Linked DNA regions of Homo sapiens: regions 2, 3, 4 and 5 are each linked to region 1. Evidence: fine-mapped expression QTL. A gene starts in region 1. Each other region holds a variant in brackets. All regions are shown on one strand. Distances are from middle to middle. Region 1 holds the start of VDR (vitamin D receptor). Region 2 overlaps VDR (vitamin D receptor). Region 3 overlaps VDR (vitamin D receptor). Region 4 overlaps VDR (vitamin D receptor). Region 5 overlaps VDR (vitamin D receptor).

What was found. PIP is the estimated chance that this variant, and not a neighbour inherited with it, causes the effect.
Region 2: its variant is the best candidate, but not a certain one, in a credible set for the expression of VDR in testis (GTEx, PIP 0.61).
Region 3: its variant is the best candidate, but not a certain one, in a credible set for the expression of VDR in lymphoblastoid cells (GTEx, PIP 0.64).
Region 4: its variant is the best candidate, but not a certain one, in a credible set for the expression of VDR in whole blood (INTERVAL, PIP 0.60).
Region 5: its variant is the best candidate, but not a certain one, in a credible set for the expression of VDR in whole blood (TOPMed, PIP 0.68).

Annotation. Positions count from the first base shown.
Region 1 is chr12:47,903,195-47,907,311 of GRCh38, reverse strand. VDR (vitamin D receptor) reads left to right here and starts at 2,318. Exons shown (of 10, transcript NM_000376.3): 1 at 2,318-2,357. RefSeq lists a silencer at 2,196-2,325 and an enhancer at 3,709-3,908.
Region 2 is chr12:47,853,495-47,857,611 of GRCh38, reverse strand. It overlaps VDR (vitamin D receptor), which reads left to right. Exons shown (of 10, transcript NM_000376.3): 5 at 1-108; 6 at 363-483; 7 at 1,811-1,982. Among named protein-coding and RNA genes, the nearest start is that of LINC02354, 26 kb to the right of the region's middle. The variant C/T (reference allele first, on the strand shown) is at 1,535.
Region 3 is chr12:47,867,478-47,871,594 of GRCh38, reverse strand. The region is part of intron 3 of VDR (vitamin D receptor); the gene reads left to right. Among named protein-coding and RNA genes, the nearest start is that of VDR, 35 kb to the left of the region's middle. RefSeq lists enhancers at 1,731-1,780, 2,547-2,616, 2,717-2,896, 2,602-3,102. The variant C/T (reference allele first, on the strand shown) is at 2,414.
Region 4 is chr12:47,842,701-47,846,817 of GRCh38, reverse strand. It overlaps VDR (vitamin D receptor), which reads left to right. Exons shown (of 10, transcript NM_000376.3): 8 at 10-161; 9 at 367-483; 10 at 1,813-4,117. The coding sequence ends at 2,072. Among named protein-coding and RNA genes, the nearest start is that of LINC02354, 16 kb to the right of the region's middle. RefSeq lists enhancers at 437-938, 2,463-3,035, 3,036-3,609. The variant G/T (reference allele first, on the strand shown) is at 2,533.
Region 5 is chr12:47,878,412-47,882,528 of GRCh38, reverse strand. VDR (vitamin D receptor) reads left to right here. Exons shown (of 10, transcript NM_000376.3): 3 at 3,414-3,561. The coding sequence starts at 3,416. Among named protein-coding and RNA genes, the nearest start is that of VDR, 25 kb to the left of the region's middle. The variant A/G (reference allele first, on the strand shown) is at 1,718.

The DNA.
Region 1 (4,117 bases):
AAGACCAGAGAATTGACAGTTCCTTTCCTGGAGATGTTGGAAAAGCCTGATGGAATAGGCAGGACCTGAAAGAGGAGAGGGTCTGGAGAGGTGGATGAGAGAGAACAGTTCAGGTATTGGGGGAATATGGGAAGAACATGGTTACAGACAAGGTGACGGGGCTGATGACGGCATGTGCTGGGGACCGTGATGACATCTATAATCTTGCCCATCTGCCAAACGCAGAACCTCTGAGTTCTTCAACTCTGTGAAAAGTGCATGCATGGAAATTTTTTTTTTGTTTTTTAGAGGCAGCATGAAACAGTGGGATGTGCAGAGAGAAGATCTGGGTCCAGTAGCTCTGACACTCCTCAGCTGTAGAAACCTTGACAACTCTGCACATCAGTTGTACAATGGAACGGTATTTTTTACTCTTCATGTCTGAAAAGGCTATGATAAAGATCAAGTAAGATATTCCAAAGAATTTTTAAATTATAAAGCAGTTTACACATGTGAATTACAAGTACCTCTCCTCCAACAAAGGCTGTGAAAAAAGACTAACTCTCAGTTACTACGGAATACTTAGTACGCATCTTCCACCATCTTTTGATAAGGTTTATTTGCAAGATGTCAGGCCAGTCAAGCACCACAAAAGTGACTTCTGAGTGTTCAACCTCTTTCAGAGGCTCATGGGACTTGCAGAGAATGTCCCAAGGTATTGGTGGTTGGAAATTTCCTCTTATGCTTTTCTTCCCACAAGAATCACCGCTAGCTTTCCCACGATGCTTTGGGCAAGGGGATCCTTCCTATTACTTTCATTACAGGTAGAGAATCCATCCATCAGACTGGCAGGACCTCTAAAGGGGCACTTCATCTGTTTCTCAGAATAAATGGTCCATTCCCAAGTTCAATCAAACGCTATGCCTCTCTTCTGTCTTTTGTTTAAGTCTTCCCAGAAAGTTGCCATGATACCTCCATAATGAACTGTTGCAGTGCTTAACAAACTTCACTGTTGGAAGGTTCTTCCTTCTATTTAATCTCAGTCTATTTCTTTTAACCCTATTATTGAGTTGTGAGGGGCTGGTTATGATGTAGTCCAGCATAGCTGTCTCAGAAATGGTTCAGAGACCATTGCACCAGCAGATTTGCTGGGCTCTAGCACTAGTCCTTCATTGATTAGCTGAGTCATGTTGGGCATATCACTTAAACTTTCTATGCCTCAATTTCCCACCCTTTCACCTTGTCCCTCTGAGCCATGGTTTCCTCCTCTGTAAGAGGCGAATAGCAATATCTTCCCTGGCTAAAGGAGGTCATCGACTGCTGGATGATTTTGTGAGCATTTCTATTCCAGAAGATTATGTTGTAATTACTATTTATTTATACATTCTCCCACTGCACAGTGAGTTCTAAGAAGAGGGAACCCCATCTTTTTCACCTGTCCTCTAGCAGATAGAGCGGTGCCTATCACACAGTCAAGGGAAGCAGAGAATAACTTTAAGCCAAAATTTCCTGTGGTGAGTTTTCCGCAGCCATCCACAATTCCAGGTCTCAGGAGGTAGTCTTTATCTTTTCCCCTCACGCCGATGCCACGGGGCGGGGGGGGAAGGCGGAACTCGGGACCAGGGACCAGGGAAGCTGAGACTCAGCTCCCTTGGGTGAGATTCGCGACAGGCCGGGAACGTGGTCAGCCGCGGTCGCTGCCAAGGTGATATCGGGTGGGAGCAATGACGCAACTCCGGTTTCCACTTCGGCCCCCCGGGATATTTTACCCTAATCTGTGGGATCAGGCTGAGCTTCCTGGCGTTCTGCAGCAGTAACAGGTTGGCGAGCGGAGCCCGGGATTTCCCATTCGTGCGGAGCTAGCCGCCGGTGCCAGTCGGCAGGCGCCCCCCAGCGTCCCGCGGACGACGAAGTCCTGGCCTGGTCAGCCCAGGTGGGGGTGACGCACCTGGCTCAGGCGTCCGCAGCAGGCTGGGTAGAACCACGGCAGGAAGGGTGGGGGGCTGCATCCCCGATTAACACAGGCTGAAGCGGGTATCCGCACCTATAATCATCGACAACTCTGTCCCACAGAGGGCAGAAGCGTGCCTTGCCCTATGGACGACGGTCGATGAAAATTTCACGAGTTAGAGTATCTAAGGCTACAGCGTGGCCTATAGGGTGGTTGATTCCAAGTCAAGATGGTTGCAGCGCCAACGGAGCTCCTGGCAAGAGAGGACTGGACCTGTGGGCGGGGCGGAGGGGCGGGGCGGGGCCGGGGCGGGGCCTGACCGAGAGGCGGGGCCAGGTGCTGGGCTGTCTCTGCTTGTCAAAAGGCGGCAGCGGAGCCGTGTGCGCCGGGAGCGCGGAACAGCTTGTCCACCCGCCGGCCGGACCAGGTGCGAACCCGGGAGCAGCGGGAAAGGGGGTCTCAGGATAGGGACTCGGGGTCGGGGCGTCTGGGATACCGGGGCCTGAGCGCCCGGCTGCGAGCATTAGAGTCTAAGTCTCAGCGGTAAACTTGGCTACTGAGGTCCGGGCTGTCGTGCCATGAGGCTGGGACACTAAGGGGCACTGAGGTTTGAGAAAGCTGAAGTTCGTGCCAGGCTGGCGAGGGGAGCAGCGACATCCTCGGCGCTTAGGAGAAATGCTCCGCTAACACAGTGCTTAGCACTTGGGCAACAAGAAGTATTTGTTTCCTTCTTCTGTCGGGGCGCCTTGGCATGGAGTGGAGGAATAAGAAAAGGAGCGATTGGCTGTCGATGGTGCTCAGAACTGCTGGAGTGGAGGGTGTGTAACCTTATTTATTGTCTTACAGGGCCCAGGTATGGTCACCTGTGATGGTGGAGTTGGGTCTTTTAAGTAATTTTTTTTTTTTTTTTTTTTTTTTTACTTTTCTTTGAACTACCAATGAGTTTAGACCTAATTGGCCCTATTTTTTTTCAGGACAGCCTGTCAATAGATGTTCAGAGGAACTCAGGGGCAAGCATTTAAATGAGGAAGGGGCTCAAGGAGTAGTTTCTGTTTGAAAAGTGAGGTGCCCTGGATCTGTGGGTGGTGGTGAGGAAGATTCAGAAGTATCTAGGAGGGAACAGCCTGTGGTCTCCAGGGCCAGTGTACAACTGCCCCTCCTTCTCTTCACCCAGGGACCAGAGTCTGAGACCTAGCCTGGGCTGGGGGAGCCTTAGGTCTCCAAGCCCAGACCCTTCTCACAGTTCCTCCTCCTTCTCCTCCTCCTCCTCCTCCTCCTCTTGTTCCTCCTCCTCCTCTATGCGTGCGGTGAGTGAGTCAGCCTCCTGTCTGGGCTCAGTTGCAGCCAAAGGGGCCAGAGCCCAGGCAAGCAGTTGGGCAGGCATTTTCTGAGCATTGCAGAAGCTCTCCTGGGCAGAGTTCAGCTCTGCTCCAGCTCCCTGCTGGAAGGTGGTCTTCCTCATGGGCAGGGGCTCAGATACCCAACACAGCAGTGCTTATGGAATGGCTATGAGATGATTCTAGCAGGAGGTGACCGTGAAGGGATAGTGGCTTTATGATAAATCTACATCTCATCTTTCTCCTGGGATAAGGAGGTGCATCCCAGCACTGCAGGCTTTTCCAGCCCTTCCTTCCATTTCTGCCTAGTGGTCTCATTAGCAGCCCATCTCTGCTAGTGAAGGGGGTGAGCAAAAGAAATTAGGAAAGTCTGGGGCCAGAGAAGTCATGGTGTTGGCAAAGAAGGCTTTAACTCAGGCTAGGGAGTGAGGGTGATTTGCTGAGGTAGAAATGGGTTATCTGAACATTGGAGCCTCAATTCTATGGACTAAGAGTGTTGTGTGTTGAGAGACCTGCCGTCCCTTCCCTGTCCAAGTGCTGGAGGGAACTGTGAGTCTTTCTGAAACAGTCTCAGGGCTGGCATGCAGCCAGACCAGAAGGTAGTAAGACTGCACATTTCTCCCTGGCTTTTGTTTTGGGTGCTAGAGATCGTTGAACAGAAGTAGCCCTCCCTGCAGAGTCCGTGGCCCCCACTCAGCAGCCTCTCTGGACCTATTTGAGAAGAGTCCTGGGAGGCCAATCCAGCTGTGGGGCTGACTCAAACTGCAAAAAGCTGGGGAATTCACAGTCTATGCTCTGGCTGGGTCCCATGGCTTTGGGTTTGGCTGGTCTTGATCAGCTGTGACTTGGA
Region 2 (4,117 bases), 50 kb after region 1:
AGTCTGCGGCCCAAGCTGTCTGAGGAGCAGCAGCGCATCATTGCCATACTGCTGGACGCCCACCATAAGACCTACGACCCCACCTACTCCGACTTCTGCCAGTTCCGGGTATGTCTGCCTGCTGGGAGGATGAGCCGGTCCAGAGGAGAAGCACTAGTGGAGCCAGGGCCCAGGGAGTAGGGACAGAGGGCAGGGGACATCCTGAACAGAACTGGGGTAGGGACGGAGGCTGCTCTGCCCCTGGCACTGGGAGGCTTCGCCTTCCTGTAGACCTTCCTCAAAGCCATTCCTATCAGAGATCAGGGCCAAGGTAGGAAGGCAACCCCAAAATGTGGGTCTGAGACCCCATCTTTCCCTTCCAGCCTCCAGTTCGTGTGAATGATGGTGGAGGGAGCCATCCTTCCAGGCCCAACTCCAGACACACTCCCAGCTTCTCTGGGGACTCCTCCTCCTCCTGCTCAGATCACTGTATCACCTCTTCAGGTAAGCAGGACTTCAGTCCTCCATAGAGTAAGGGAGCGGGGGCGAGGAGTCCACCGCACCTGCCCTGGGGCTGCTGGATGGAAGGAGGTGGAAGGCTCCCTAATGGAAACTTACATAAATACTGTGCGCTATGCAGCGTCTTCACAACAGCCCCTCTGTTACAGAAAGGGGTGACTTACCCAAGGGCCCACACTGGGGAAGAGGCCAAGCTGGGATTCCAGCTGTGTAGCATCAGCCTCCCGGGCCCATGCTGTTTCCTCTAAGCCAGGCTTCAGCCCATGGCCCCCTCCGTGGAGGTGACCTGCTTCCTTTACGTGATATTTTAATCCTGGGCCCTTCAGAAGGTGAAATTTGGAGTGGGAAGGTGAACGTGTTGGTCCTATTGAGGTCCACCTTCCACTTGAGCTCTGGGGACCACTCTGGCCCTGGAGGACCTGTCCCCTCCAGCTCAGCTGAGAGTCTGGGAGGCATCATGCTTTCCTTCCTTTCTTTTTTTTTTTTTTTTTAAAAAAAACACATATGTATATTTAGAAAAGAAATTGTGCTGTATACAATCTGATGACTTGCTTTTTTTTATATGGCATTGTTTTTCCATACCAGTTAGTACGCATCCAGAATATAATTTTTAAGGGCTGCATAGTATTCTGGAATACAATAATGTACCTAATCCCCTACCATTGGATATCTGGATTATTTCTCAGCATTTTAATAAGAAAACAGTATACTTGTAGCCAAATATTTACACTTATCGGAAATTTTCCCTTACAATGAATTCCAGGAAGTGTGACTACTGGTCAAAGAGTACACACAATTATTTGACTAATGTCAAATAGCTTTCTAGAGTACCTTCAGTAATGTGCACCTCCTTTAGCACCCCAGCCCTCATAGGCATTGCCTAATTTCCTGCATCTTTATAAATACTGGCATCAATATTTAAACATTTTTGTTTCTGGTTTGTAGGTGAAAATTATAGATGTTCTACACTGCAGTTCTTTGACCATTAGCAAGGTTGAACATTTTTTTCCATGACTTGATGGGTCCCAAATTCTTT[C/T]TTGATTGAGATCCATAGGAACAGCACACAGTCTGCTTGAGGAAGTCTCATTGCTCTGAGTGTCTCTGGCTCTTTGATTTTACTGCCTTATGCTGCTGAAAGAGGCAGAGAGAGTCCCAGAGGGAAGCCTGGGGCTGAAGGGTGACCTGTGGAGTCACTGTGGGATTCCCAGCTGGCTCTGCTGCCAGGGCACACCAGGTTTTTGCAGGGTCTGGCAGGAGGGGGCCTGGTCCAAGTATCCTTAAATAGCTCCTTCTCTTCCCTCATCTCTCCCAGACATGATGGACTCGTCCAGCTTCTCCAATCTGGATCTGAGTGAAGAAGATTCAGATGACCCTTCTGTGACCCTAGAGCTGTCCCAGCTCTCCATGCTGCCCCACCTGGCTGACCTGGTCAGTTACAGCATCCAAAAGGTCATTGGCTTTGCTAAGATGATACCAGGATTCAGGTAAGAAACTTCTGCAATCTCTGGGGAACAGAGTCAGAGTCCTAGACTGAGCTACAAGAAGGGTTGGAGATCACTCATCCACCACTTCTTTTTTTTATTTTTTATTTTTTTAAACGGCATCTTGCTCTGTCACGCAGGCTGGAGTGCAGTGGCGCGATCTCGGCTCACTGCAACCTCCGCCTCCTAGGTTCAAGCGATTCTCCTGCCTCAACCTCCCAAGTAGCTGGGATTACAGGCACCAGACACCACGCCCGGCTAATTTATTTATTTATTTATTTATTTATTTATTTTTATTTTTTTTCCAGACAGATTCTCGCTCTGATGCCCAGGCTGGAGTGCAGTGGCACTATCTTGGCTCACTATAACCTCCGCCTCCCGGGTTCAAGTGATTCTCCTGCCTCAGCCTCCTAAGTAGCTGGGATTACAGGTGTGGGCCACCAAGCCCGGCTAATTTTTATAATTTTAGTAGAGACGGGGTTTCACCACGTTGGCCAGGCTGCTCTCGATCACCTGACCTCGTGATCCAACCACCTTGGTCTCCCAAAGTGCTGGGATTACAGGCATGAGCCATCGCGCCCTGCCCTAATTTTTTTATTTTTAGTAGAGACGGAGTTTCGCCATGTTGGCCAGGCTTGTCTCAAACTCCTGACCTCAAGTGATCCACCCACCTCAGCCTCCCAAAGTGCTGGGATTACGGGCATGAGCCACAGCAGCCAGCCTCCATTGCTTCTTTAAAATAGAGATTCAGACCCTACCCTAGACCTGCGAAATCAGAATCTCTGGCGTAGGCCCAGAAATCTGTATTTAGAAAGTGCAGCCTGTCTTGCGTTACTCTGCAGGCCAGCACTGGAGAGCTAGTCCATCCCCGCACTTTCTGGATGATGGTGTGGAAGCCCAGAGAGGTCCAATGGCCAGCCAGGATCCCTTCCAGGTGTTGGAGCCAGCATGTCAGAGCCAGGCCTAGAACTCCCAGCTCACTGCTGTGTTCACTCCAGCTGGCTTGACTGGAATCCTCATATTATCTCTTTAAATTCAACGATATGATTCCTCCACACCCCAACTCTGAGAGCAGAATGAAGTGATAGAGAGAAGGGCTTGGCCATGTAGACTTGTGAAACAGTCTAGGAATCCTGGAGAGAGATAGGTTTACTGGCATATATGACCCTGGCATCCTTCACCAAAATGTACATTTAAAGACCATTTCCTGGCTGGGCACAGTGGCACATGCCTATCCCAACACTTTGAGAGACTGAGGTAGGAGGATTGCTTCAGCCCAGGAGTTCCAGACCAGCCTGATCAACATAGTGAGACCTCTTCTCTACAAAAAAAAAAAATTATAAATTAGCCAGGTGTGGTTGCACATGCCTGTAGTCCCACCTACTAGGGAGGCTGAGGCAGGAGAATCACTTGAGCCCAGGAGGTCAAGGCTACAGTGATCCATGATTTCACCACTGCACTCCAGCCTGGGCAACAGAGCAAGACCCTGTCTCAAAAAAGAAAAAAATAAAGACCATTTCCTAACCATACTGATACATTTTTGCCAAAATATATAAGTATAAGGAGTTCTACTGGAGAAGGGATCCTCCTTTATCAATTCATTCATATAAATTTCATTCATTTATTCCTATGTTTCATTGTTTTAACACTAGTACTGTATATAATACTTATATTTAAATACTCATGCAGTGTTAATTTTTTTTTTCTTTTTTGAGACGGTTTCGCTCTTTTCACCTAGGCTGGAGTGCAATGGCGCGATCTCAGCTCACTGCAACCTCCGCCTTCCAGGTTCAAGCAATTCTCCTGCTTCAGCCTCCCAAGTAGCTGGAACTACAGGAGCGTGCCACCATGCCTGGCTAATTTTTTGTATTTTTTTTGAGACAGAGTTTCCCTCTTGTTGCCCAGGCCGGAGTACAATGACGCGATCTCAACTTACTGCAACCTCTGCCTCCTGGGTTCAAGCAATTCTCCTGCCTCAGCCTCCTGAGTAGCAGAAATTACAGGCACGCACCACCACGCCTGGCTAGTTTTGTATTTTTAGTAGTAGAGTTGGGGTTTCACCATCTTGGCCAGGCTGGTCTTGAACTACTGACCTCAGGTGATCTGCCAGCCTCAGCTTCCCAAAGTGCTGGGATTAC
Region 3 (4,117 bases), 36 kb after region 1:
CTACTCGGGAGGCTGAAGCAAGAGAATCGATTGAACCTGGGAGCCAGAGGTTGCAGTGAGCCCAGATCGTGCTGCTGCACTCCAGCGTGGGTGACAGAGTGAAATTCCATCCAGAAAAAAAAAAAAAAGAAAGAAAGAGAGAAAAGAAGGAAGGAAGGAAGGAAAGACAGATAGACAGACAGATAGAAAGAGAGAAAGAGAGGAAGGAAGGAAGGAAGAGAGAGAGAGAGAGAAAGGAAAGAAAGAAAGAAAGAAAGAAAGAAAGAAAGAAAGAAAGAAAGAAAGAAAGAAAGAAAGAAAGAGAAAGAGAAAGAAAGAGAAAAGAAAGAAACCAGTCCTCTGTCATGGTCATTTAGGTTCGGTCTTTGGCTTCTCCAGACAGAGCTGCAGTAACCACCATTGCGCCCATGGACCGATCTACCCACAGGATAAATACCTGGAAGTGGCTTTACTGCGTTAAAATGTCTGTGTGTTTAACATGCTTCGCATTGCCAATTGCCCTCCAAAAAAAAAAGTCTGTGCTCTTTTCTACAGTGCTAACCATCCTTTAATGTTTTTTTAAACCCACCTGAGGAGAACCCCCTGATGCTGCCTCTCACATACATGTAGGCCCCTACATCATTTGATGTAGGTCTTTTTATTCCTTTAGATTTGCTGGGGTATAATTGACAGATAGACATGGTCTATATTTCAGGTGCACAACTCGATGTTCTGCTATACATATACATTGTGAAATGATCACCATAATCAAACTAGTAAGCATTCCCAGCACCTCACATAGCTTTCAGATCAGGAGCTCTCGCTAGTTCCTGTATCCTGAGCAGACGCTGGAATCTCTGTGACAGTGCAGTGGAGATGGAGCCCAGAGGGGATAGTTGACCCTACGCCTGGGTTATGCAACGTGCGTCTCTGCTGGCAGAGGCCACCTACTGGAGAAAGGCCCAACTGTCCCAGGCCTGAGGCCCTGGCCCCAGGCTCTTGATGCTTTTGTGAGGTTTTTGTCTCTTTCTGTTTTGATAAACTGGTCTCTGGCATGAGAATCGGTCAATGTCCTCTCTCACCCCTGGCTTTCTAGAAACTGCATCTATATTTAGCTTGGTTGCCCCACCCCTACCCCCCCTTCCTGAGCTGGGGTATAAATGCCAACCAACCAGAGGATGACAGGGTCCAGGCTCAGAGAGCAGCTGAGGCAATGGGCTCTCATGGAAACCTGAAGCTCTTGTTTCTCAAATCCAAACCAGCTCACAGGCAATTAGTATTGGGAGGAAGGCAGGGTAGGGTGTAGACCTTCAGGACAAAGCACAGAGCCAGGGTTGGGCAGTCTGGCTGCCCTGACTCCTCGTGGGCAGAGAGTAAATGACAGCCACACATGTGGAAGTGCCCTTGGAAGGCAGGAGAACAGGGAAGAACAGGACCTCTGAGCCAAGAGGATCTGTGGCCCAGCAAACAGACATGTTGGGCCAGACACACCTGAAAGGCCAGCTCTGGGATCTGAGTTCCAGAGAGCCTCTGGGTCTGGCAGTTGGAGCTGGGGAGCAAACTTTCTATACCCTGAACACTGACCCCACGCTCCAGAGCGTAATGGTGTCCTCTTCCTTTTCAGTGTTCTCGGGCTTCATATGACAACTCTTAAGCAGAAGCAAGGGCGCCAAACTTTTTTTTTACCCCCAGTACTTTCTCTTTTATTTTTTATTTCTAGAGACAGGATCTCACTTTGTCACCCACACTGAAGTGCAGTGGCACAATCTTGGTTCACTGCAGCCTTGACCTCACCAGCTCAAGCGATCCTTCCACCTTAGCCTCCCAAGTAGCTGAGACCACAGGCGCATGCCACCATGCCTGGCTAATTTTTTTTAATCTTTTGTAGATACAGGGTTTCACCATGTTGGCCAGGTTGGTCTCAAACTCCTGAGCCTAAGCTATCTGCCCACCTCAGCCTCCCAAAGTGCTGGGCTTACAGGCGTGCTCACGCCACTGCACCCAGTCCCAGTACTTTCTCTTAATTCAGCTCTGCACTATTTTCTCTTCCTATTCCTTTTTTTTTTTTTTTTTTTTTTTTGAGATGGAGTCTCGCTCTGTCCCCCAGGCTGAAGTGTAGTGGCACGATCTCAGCTCACTGCAAGCTCCACCTCCCGGGTTCACGCCATTCTCCTGCCTCAGCCTCCCGAGTAGCTGGGACTACAGGCGCCCGCCAACACGCCCGGCTAATGTTTTGCATTTTTAGTAGAGATGGGGTTTCACCGTGTTAGCCACAATGGTCTCGATCTCCTGACCTCGCGATCCGCCTGTCTCGGCCTCCCAAAGTGCTGGGATTACAGGTGTGAGCCACCGCGCCCGGCCTTCTCTTCCTATTCCTAGCCTCATTCCTGTTGTCAGGCAAAGTGGGGCTGAGTGGCAATCTCCAACCCTCCTG[C/T]GTATAGACATCTGAGATGGAGCTTCATATTTAAAGTGACATGAGAAAAATGAGAGAAAGATGGCGAAGCAGTGGAATCTCTTTTCAGGCAACCCTGCAGCTGGGGGGGCTGCCCCCAAGTGAGGGTCAAAGGCAGGCTCCCTGGAGCCTGGGGAAGGACAGACGGGGCCTCTGATAGGCCCTGGGGCCTCAAGAAGCTCTCAGTCCCGGGCCCAGTCTGGTGAGAGGCTTTGGCTCACATCACTGTAGGTGGTGGCTGGGCTAGGCTGACGATGTGCTGTCTTCTTGGTGCCCATGGCCTTGCAGGCTTAACAGGAAGAGCTCTGAGCCAGACAAGACAGCCAGTGGGAGGACAGAGCAGCCCCTCAGTGACCAGAGCGAAATGCCCGGTTGTTGAAAAACAAAAAAAAAAAAAAGGAAATGAGAGTTTCTTCTGAAATAGAAACTTCTGGTCCTTGAGTAAGTTTAGAGAATTACGGGCATTCTGAGGCCTGAGCATTTGTGGTGACGGATGAAGCCTCAAGAACCACAAGGTTGGTGGGAGGGACACCAATCTCATGTCCTGGAACATACAGATGTCCCTGTGGGGATAATTGTATCTCGTTTCTGGGGAACCCTAACAGTTCCCAAGATGCTTCCATATTCTCTTGTCCCTCCAGAAAAGCAGCAGTAAACAAATAGAGGTGAACGGCAAAAGGCTTTTTGTTTCTACGAAGATGGAAAAAAGCCTGGCGTATAACTTCTTTCTTGTTAGCTACTGCAGGGTTAGGACTGGGCCTGAGGCGGGCTAGACTTGGAGCTAAGGAGCCCCTGATAGCCTGGTGCTGCTCCACCTCCTGACAACCCTGGCTCTGCAGTAGGCCCCTTGGGTGATGAGGGTTGTCACAGCAGGGTACCAGAGCCAAGGTCCAAAACCAACAGCAGCTGCTTCCTTGACTGTTGGGTCATTCTTGGCATTGAGCCACCTGGGGCTGTTTGGGGCATCAACTTCACTGAGCACTTTAAGTTTCTGGGGTTGAAAACAATCCAGGAAGCTAAAGGCTAAGCCTTAGATCCCTAAGACTTCCAGACCTAGGAGCCTGCACTTCTTGCTGAATATCCTCACCTGTAAGTTTCTTAACCTCAGTGGTCCCACGTATAAAGGGAGGGAGTTACACTGACGGTCTCTTGGGCCCTCTGTGGATCTAAGAGTCTGGGCCTGCCTGGGACTGCCAGTAGAGCCCTACTCTGGTCTCTTCTCTATCCCAGGGGCTGAGTCGGTGTGGTCCCCAGCTGTCCATTTGCTAGAGCAAGCTTGACAATTGATGAGTGCGATTCCCCTCAACCCCATGTATGTTCTAGTGAATGTGAACAGTGAGTCATGTTTTACCAAGAATCCTAACTAATGCCTGGCCCCTGAGCAGATGACGTCAGTAGCTCATCTCCAGGAAGGAAATGGTTGGGCCTGGGCTTTGGCTTGGAAGGCTTGGGCATCTTCACACTCAGCAGTTCCTTGGAAGATGCTGCTGCTCATGCAGACAGTGATTCTGCCACCATCTTTCCCCATCTAACTATGTCAGAAAAGTGGGGCCTACTCCTGCTGGGGCTGGGAGGAGGACAGGACTCTCAGGACATGGATGATGAAAAGCCTCTAGGGAGGTGCCTCAGGGAGGTGTCCTTTATGCAGCCTCCCAAAGTCCACGTGGTGTGGCTGGCAGTGGGAGA
Region 4 (4,117 bases), 60 kb after region 1:
CCCCTGCAGAGACCTCACCTCTGAGGACCAGATCGTACTGCTGAAGTCAAGTGCCATTGAGGTCATCATGTTGCGCTCCAATGAGTCCTTCACCATGGACGACATGTCCTGGACCTGTGGCAACCAAGACTACAAGTACCGCGTCAGTGACGTGACCAAAGGTATGCCTAGACTCCACCTCCTGGGGAGTCTTTTTCAGCTCCCAGATTCTGGCTCCACCCGTCCTGGGGTTTGGCTCCAATCAGATACATGGGAGGGAGTTAGGCACCAACAGGGAGAGAAGGGCGAGGGTCAGACCCATGGGGTTGGAGGTGGGTGGGCGGCTCCTCAGCTCTGCCCGCAGTACCTGGCCATTGTCTCTCACAGCCGGACACAGCCTGGAGCTGATTGAGCCCCTCATCAAGTTCCAGGTGGGACTGAAGAAGCTGAACTTGCATGAGGAGGAGCATGTCCTGCTCATGGCCATCTGCATCGTCTCCCCAGGTATGGGGCCAGGCAGGGAGGAGCTCAGGGACCTGGGGAGCGGGGAGTATGAAGGACAAAGACCTGCTGAGGGCCAGCTGGGCAACCTGAAGGGAGACGTAGCAAAAGGAGACACAGATAAGGAAATACCTACTTTGCTGGTTTGCAGAGCCCCTGTGGTGTGTGGACGCTGAGGTGCCCCTCACTGCCCTTAGCTCTGCCTTGCAGAGTGTGCAGGCGATTCGTAGGGGGGATTCTGAGGAACTAGATAAGCAGGGTTCCTGGGGCCACAGACAGGCCTGCGCATTCCCAATACTCAGGCTCTGCTCTTGCGTGAACTGGGCTCAACATTCCTGTTATTTGAGGTTTCTTGCGGGCAGGGTACAAAACTTTGGAGCCTGAGAGATGGTTCTGCCTATATAGTTTACCTGATTGATTTTGGAGGCAATGTGCAGTGACCCTTGACCTCTTCCGCTGGTTAGAGGTGAGAAGAGGGAGAAAAGGCCGAAGAGGAAGTTATTGTGACCTTGGGGACATGATGTCGGTGATGAGGTCCAAAGAGGGGCGGCCCTGCCTCAGCCTGTGCTAGTGGCCTGTGCCCAGGGATGCTTTCCTGGACTGGAGGCTCAAGGAATGGAGATGGGCTCCTCTACCCCTGCCCAGCCAGCCTTCTCTCATTCATTCATCCACTTAGCAACAATTTATTGAGCACCTATTAGGTACCAGGCACTATGCTAGGTACTGGGGTTCAGCAGCAAATGGGACACAGGCTCCTCTCCCATGAAGCTTAGGAGGAAACATTAAACAAATGTTATTTAATTATTAATTCCTAACAAGGCAAGAGTTTTAAAAATAAAGTAAGTGATGCTACAGAAGGGTAGAATAGAAGGAGGGAAGCTGACGTGGTCTGGGCTACAGAGGTAGAGTGTTGCCAGGAATGGCCTTTTGGAGGAAGACCTTTTAAGCTGTTATCCAAAGGATCAGTAAGAGTCTGGCAAAGATAGCAGAGCAGAGTTCCAAGCAGAGGGAGCACAGATGTGAAGGCTGGTGGCCAGAGAGCATGGCGCATCGGGACGCTGAGGGATGGACAGAGCATGGACAGGGAGCAAGGCCAGGCAGGGACAGGGCCAGGTGCGCCCATGGAAGGACCTAGGTCTGGATCCTAAATGCACGGAGAAGTCACTGGAGGGCTTTGGGGCCAGGCAGTGGTATCACCGGTCAGCAGTCATAGAGGGGTGGCCTAGGGGGTGCTGCCGTTGAGTGTCTGTGTGGGTGGGGGGTGGTGGGATTGAGCAGTGAGGGGCCCAGCTGAGAGCTCCTGTGCCTTCTTCTCTATCCCCGTGCCCACAGATCGTCCTGGGGTGCAGGACGCCGCGCTGATTGAGGCCATCCAGGACCGCCTGTCCAACACACTGCAGACGTACATCCGCTGCCGCCACCCGCCCCCGGGCAGCCACCTGCTCTATGCCAAGATGATCCAGAAGCTAGCCGACCTGCGCAGCCTCAATGAGGAGCACTCCAAGCAGTACCGCTGCCTCTCCTTCCAGCCTGAGTGCAGCATGAAGCTAACGCCCCTTGTGCTCGAAGTGTTTGGCAATGAGATCTCCTGACTAGGACAGCCTGTGGCGGTGCCTGGGTGGGGCTGCTCCTCCAGGGCCACGTGCCAGGCCCGGGGCTGGCGGCTACTCAGCAGCCCTCCTCACCCCGTCTGGGGTTCAGCCCCTCCTCTGCCACCTCCCCTATCCACCCAGCCCATTCTCTCTCCTGTCCAACCTAACCCCTTTCCTGCGGGCTTTTCCCCGGTCCCTTGAGACCTCAGCCATGAGGAGTTGCTGTTTGTTTGACAAAGAAACCCAAGTGGGGGCAGAGGGCAGAGGCTGGAGGCAGGGCCTTGCCCAGAGATGCCTCCACCGCTGCCTAAGTGGCTGCTGACTGATGTTGAGGGAACAGACAGGAGAAATGCATCCATTCCTCAGGGACAGAGACACCTGCACCTCCCCCCACTGCAGGCCCCGCTTGTCCAGCGCCTAGTGGGGTCTCCCTCTCCTGCCTACTCACGATAAATAATCG[G/T]CCCACAGCTCCCACCCCACCCCCTTCAGTGCCCACCAACATCCCATTGCCCTGGTTATATTCTCACGGGCAGTAGCTGTGGTGAGGTGGGTTTTCTTCCCATCACTGGAGCACCAGGCACGAACCCACCTGCTGAGAGACCCAAGGAGGAAAAACAGACAAAAACAGCCTCACAGAAGAATATGACAGCTGTCCCTGTCACCAAGCTCACAGTTCCTCGCCCTGGGTCTAAGGGGTTGGTTGAGGTGGAAGCCCTCCTTCCACGGATCCATGTAGCAGGACTGAATTGTCCCCAGTTTGCAGAAAAGCACCTGCCGACCTCGTCCTCCCCCTGCCAGTGCCTTACCTCCTGCCCAGGAGAGCCAGCCCTCCCTGTCCTCCTCGGATCACCGAGAGTAGCCGAGAGCCTGCTCCCCCACCCCCTCCCCAGGGGAGAGGGTCTGGAGAAGCAGTGAGCCGCATCTTCTCCATCTGGCAGGGTGGGATGGAGGAGAAGAATTTTCAGACCCCAGCGGCTGAGTCATGATCTCCCTGCCGCCTCAATGTGGTTGCAAGGCCGCTGTTCACCCACAGGGCTAAGAGCTAGCGCTGCCGCACCCCAGAGTGTGGGAAGGGAGAGCGGGGCAGTCTCGGGTGGCTAGTCAGAGAGAGTGTTTGGGGGTTCCGTGATGTAGGGTAAGGTGCCTTCTTATTCTCACTCCACCACCCAAAAGTCAAAAGGTGCCTGTGAGGCAGGGGCGGAGTGATACAACTTCAAGTGCATGCTCTCTGCAGCCAGCCCAGCCCAGCTGGTGGGAAGCGTCTGTCCGTTTACTCCAAGGTGGGGTCTTTGTGAGAGTGAGCTGTAGGTGTGCGGGACCGGTACAGAAAGGCGTTCTTCGAGGTGGATCACAGAGGCTTCTTCAGATCAGTGCTTGAGTTTGGGGAATGCGGCCGCATTCCCTGAGTCACCAGGAATGTTAAAGTCAGTGGGAACGTGACTGCCCCAACTCCTGGAAGCTGTGTCCTTGCACCTGCATCCGTAGTTCCCTGAAAACCCAGAGAGGAATCAGACTTCACACTGCAAGAGCCTTGGTGTCCACCTGGCCCCATGTCTCTCAGAATTCTTCAGGTGGAAAAACATCTGAAAGCCACGTTCCTTACTGCAGAATAGCATATATATCGCTTAATCTTAAATTTATTAGATATGAGTTGTTTTCAGACTCAGACTCCATTTGTATTATAGTCTAATATACAGGGTAGCAGGTACCACTGATTTGGAGATATTTATGGGGGGAGAACTTACATTGTGAAACTTCTGTACATTAATTATTATTGCTGTTGTTATTTTACAAGGGTCTAGGGAGAGACCCTTGTTTGATTTTAGCTGCAGAACGTATTGGTCCAGCTTGCTCTTCAGTGGGAGAAAACACTTGTAAGTTGCTAAACGAGTCAATCCCCTCATTCAGGAAAACTGACAGAGGAGGGCGTGACTCACCCAAGCATATATAACTAGCTAGAAGTGGGCCAGGACAGGCCCGGCGCGGTGGCTCACGCCTGTAATCCCAGCAGTTTGGGAGGTCGAGGTAGGTGGATCACCTGAGGT
Region 5 (4,117 bases), 25 kb after region 1:
GTGTGTGGGGTGCGGGTGGGAGTTCAGAGAAGGGCTCAGGAGATGGGGCTTGCTGGCTCCAGCCACGACCCTGGCTGGGCTCTCCTGTGCGTCTGATGTTTCCTATCCAGCCCCCATCTCCTCTTTCTCTTTGCTGCCTTCTTTAGTCTCTGCCTGTCATTCCTGGGACTTTCAGCTCTCAAGCCACAGAGGCTTGGACATCTCCACATGTGGACTCTGGTCCTGGGCGCTGGCTTCTTGATAGCAGCAAATAACCTCAAGCAGGGTTGGGTCTTCTGTCAGCTCCCCTGAAATGGTCTCATTCACTGTGGGCCTCTGGCTGCTTGATCCAGCCTTTCCAGCCTTCACCCCCAGCATAGAGACTTCCTGATGTCAAGGCAGCACCCCACCCCATTGCAGGACTGCCCCGTTGCTGTGCTGTGGTAGTATGTTGTTCCACTCGCTTGCATCATAGCATCTCCAAATGAGTCCATGTGATGCTGAACATGTGTTGACTGATTTAACAGATATTCCTTCCTACCCCCCATTTGATTTCTCTGTTTTCCACGAAATCCACCGGATACTTGGGAGCCTGGATGACCCAGACTCTGTAGCAACACCACGATGACTCGGAGCTGCAGCATCTCAGCTGACCCAGGGTTAAGCCACAAGCATCCTGGACAGTTTCCCCTATTACCCCACAATGATATTGGGCCTCCGGGATGCTGGCCACATCTTGAATGTGTGCTATGTTCTAAAACCTGCAGGCATCAGCTTGGACTTGGGATGGTCTTTGGGGACAATGTTGATAGATCCACAAGCACTTTTTCTATTTTTAATTGTTTTTTAAATTATGAAACGTTTTGTATATTCAGAAGGGCATGCAAACACAGATATACAAAACATAGATGTAGTGTTTTGCTAATAATAATAAGAAGAAGATACCATATGCTCACTACTCAAAAAATAGAATACTGCTACTATATAATGCACACCCCTCCCCGATCTCATCTCTCCAAAGGTTTCTGTTAATCATTCCTTTGTTCTTTTTTTCTGAACTTTTCTTATAGGTTCAGGGGGTACCTGTGCAGGTTTGTTACAAAGGTATATTGCAAGATACTGAGGTTTTGAGTATGAATGAATTGTCTCCCAGGTAGCGAGCATAGTACTCAATAGGTTGTTTTTCAGCCCCTGCCCCTGTCCACTTGTATTCCCAGTGTCCATTGTTCTCATCTTTATGTCCATATGTACATGATGTTTAGTTCCCACTTATAAGTGAGAACATGTGCTATTTTGTTTTCTGTTTCTGGCTTTGTTTCCTTAGGATAATGGTCTCCAGCTGTATCCATGTTGCTGCAAAGGAAAAAGGACAGTGTATGTGTGTAAAAAGGACAGTATACGTGTGTAAAAAGGACAGTATATGTGTGTGTATATATATATATATACACACACACACACATATACTGTATTTTCTTTATCTAGTCCAGAGTTGATGGGCACCTGGGTTGATTCTGTGTCTTTGCTATCGCTGCAATGATCTTTGTTCTCTTTCTGAAAGTGCTTCTCTCTTTATATATAGGTATATATTTATACTTGCTAAACTTTAATGTATATGTAGCTGCTAAAATTTAATATATACATTAAATATGTATTTATATATTTAATATATATTAATATATAATATATATTAATATGTATTTATATATTTAATGTATATATTATATATACATTAGAGTTT[A/G]GCAAGTATAAATCTAGCTGTGAAAGAAATTAGCAATAGTGTCACTATTACTATTAGGATAGTTCAAAAGTAATTGCGATCTTTGCCATTATTTTTGATGGCCAAAACCACAATTACTTTTGCACCAACCTAATACATTAAGGTTTCCAGGAAAAGAAAAGCTAAATGAGGTTAGGGAATCTCCGAGGTCTGTGACCGGGATTCCCTCTGTCCCTTTGGGACTGATGATAACATATTCTTGCTTATCTGCACCACTTCTTTCCCTTGGTGTGAAGCTCTTTGGGGAATTTTTAGAAAGTATTTGTTTTATTCATTTGGCAGTAGTGGTTTCTAGACATATCTTAAGGTTTGGGCCTCTCTGGGCCTCATTTGTAAAGGGGATGATGATAATAGCATCTACACCATGAAGTGGTATGAAGGTGAAATAAGACTTAATGAGCTTTGATATTCCACACCCTAGATCAGAGATCATGGGCCTAGTCATTGAAAAGTAGCTCAGAGCCTCCCAAGGGCCCCCAGAATCTGCCTCTGTCACCCAAGGGCAGGAGGAAATGGTACCCTGGGGTGGAGTGGGTTCTTGTCTCTTGTTTCCTGGCTTTCTCTCTTATTTTTCTTCTGACAAGAAGGACCCTTTGCCTAGGGTCAAAGGGGTCACTGAAACCTGTAATGACCCTTTTGAGGATTCAGATAAAATTGGGAGAACTGGGAGGCAGTAGGGTCTGAAAGCATTTCAGGGCAGTCTGAGGTATCCCAGAATCATCTCTGAGCCTGACAGTAGACGGGATCAGACGCAGCAGACAAAGCTGGGGGCCCAGTTTTGGCTAATGAAAGAGTCAAGCCAGCTGCTTCCTGAGAAGGCCTTCCCAAAGCTGTGGGCTTTCGTTCCGTCTGTCTCTTCTCCTTTTCCTCAAGTATGAAATCCATCTCTAGATGATAATGCCTGTTTAGAAAAACCATCTCTGAAAACACAATTAATTGTATAGGACTCACATGACTCAGAAGGACATTCAAAATAATGTTTTAAGTGTTATTGCCAAAAAAAGGGGGGGGAAATATCTTGAAATGTTGATTGTCTTGGTACAGGAACACCAGGGGCATAAGCCTATTAGCCCTGAGCTTTATGGTTGTGAGGAGCTGGGGCTGGAATGACCAGGGCACCTAAATCCTCAATTCCCCCCACCCTCAAGAGGAGGAGACCTGAGGGTTTCTCTCCACATGTAGGTGCTGAGGCTGAGGGAGGACTCTCATTTTCCCTTGGAGGGGGCGTTGGGCAGGATAGAAGCCCCTGACCTGGTTCAGGTCTGTGCCTGAGGCAGAGCTAGTGCCAGTAGCATGAATGGGTTCATGCATATGATCCTTACACCCTGGAAGTAAAACACCTCTTCCAATGCAGACAGCGGGGGCATGCAGAGGTGAACCACTAAACCCAAATTAACCTGACAGATGCAACATCTGAAACCAGGCAGCTGATTCCAAGCCATGCTCTGAGCCAGCTATGTAGGGCGAATCATGTATGAGGGCTCCGAAGGCACTGTGCTCAGGCCTGGGCCCTGGGGAGATGCCCACCCTTGCTGAGCTCCCTGGTGGTGGGGGGTGGGGGCGGTGGGATGAGGCTGGGGGTGGGTGGCACCAAGGATGCCAGCTGGCCCTGGCACTGACTCTGGCTCTGACCGTGGCCTGCTTGCTGTTCTTACAGGGATGGAGGCAATGGCGGCCAGCACTTCCCTGCCTGACCCTGGAGACTTTGACCGGAACGTGCCCCGGATCTGTGGGGTGTGTGGAGACCGAGCCACTGGCTTTCACTTCAATGCTATGACCTGTGAAGGCTGCAAAGGCTTCTTCAGGTGAGCCCTCCTCCCAGGCTCTCCCCAGTGGAAAGGGAGGGAGAAGAAGCAAGGTGTTTCCATGAAGGGAGCCCTTGCATTTTTCACATCTCCTTCCTTACAATGTCCATGGAACATGCGGCGCTCACAGCCACAGGAGCAGGAGGGTCTTGGTGAGTGGTATCTTCTTTTCCCTCCTCTCAGCTCCAGATGTTCCTCTGACTCTCTTGGAAATCGCTTTCCTGAGGTTGCTGTGTGGGTCTCTGTCTTTCCATTACGCCTGTAACCCACAGCCTCCTACACCAACCCACGTGTCCATCCTTCCAGAGTGAACCTCCTCCCTGTTGATGATCACAGCTTCCTCACCCAAGAGACAGGCATGTCTTTGGGGAAAGCCCAAGAACTTGGTTTCAGAGCTTGCCTTCCCATCCAATCCAAACTGTTCCTTGGAACAAGGGAAATGGCACCTCTTGTCGGGTCATCACGATCTGTACCCATATCTTCACCCAAGGACTGTTTGTCCTGGTCTGAAAGCCAACCTTGGAACATCCAGGCAGTGTCAGGAATGTACCTGCAT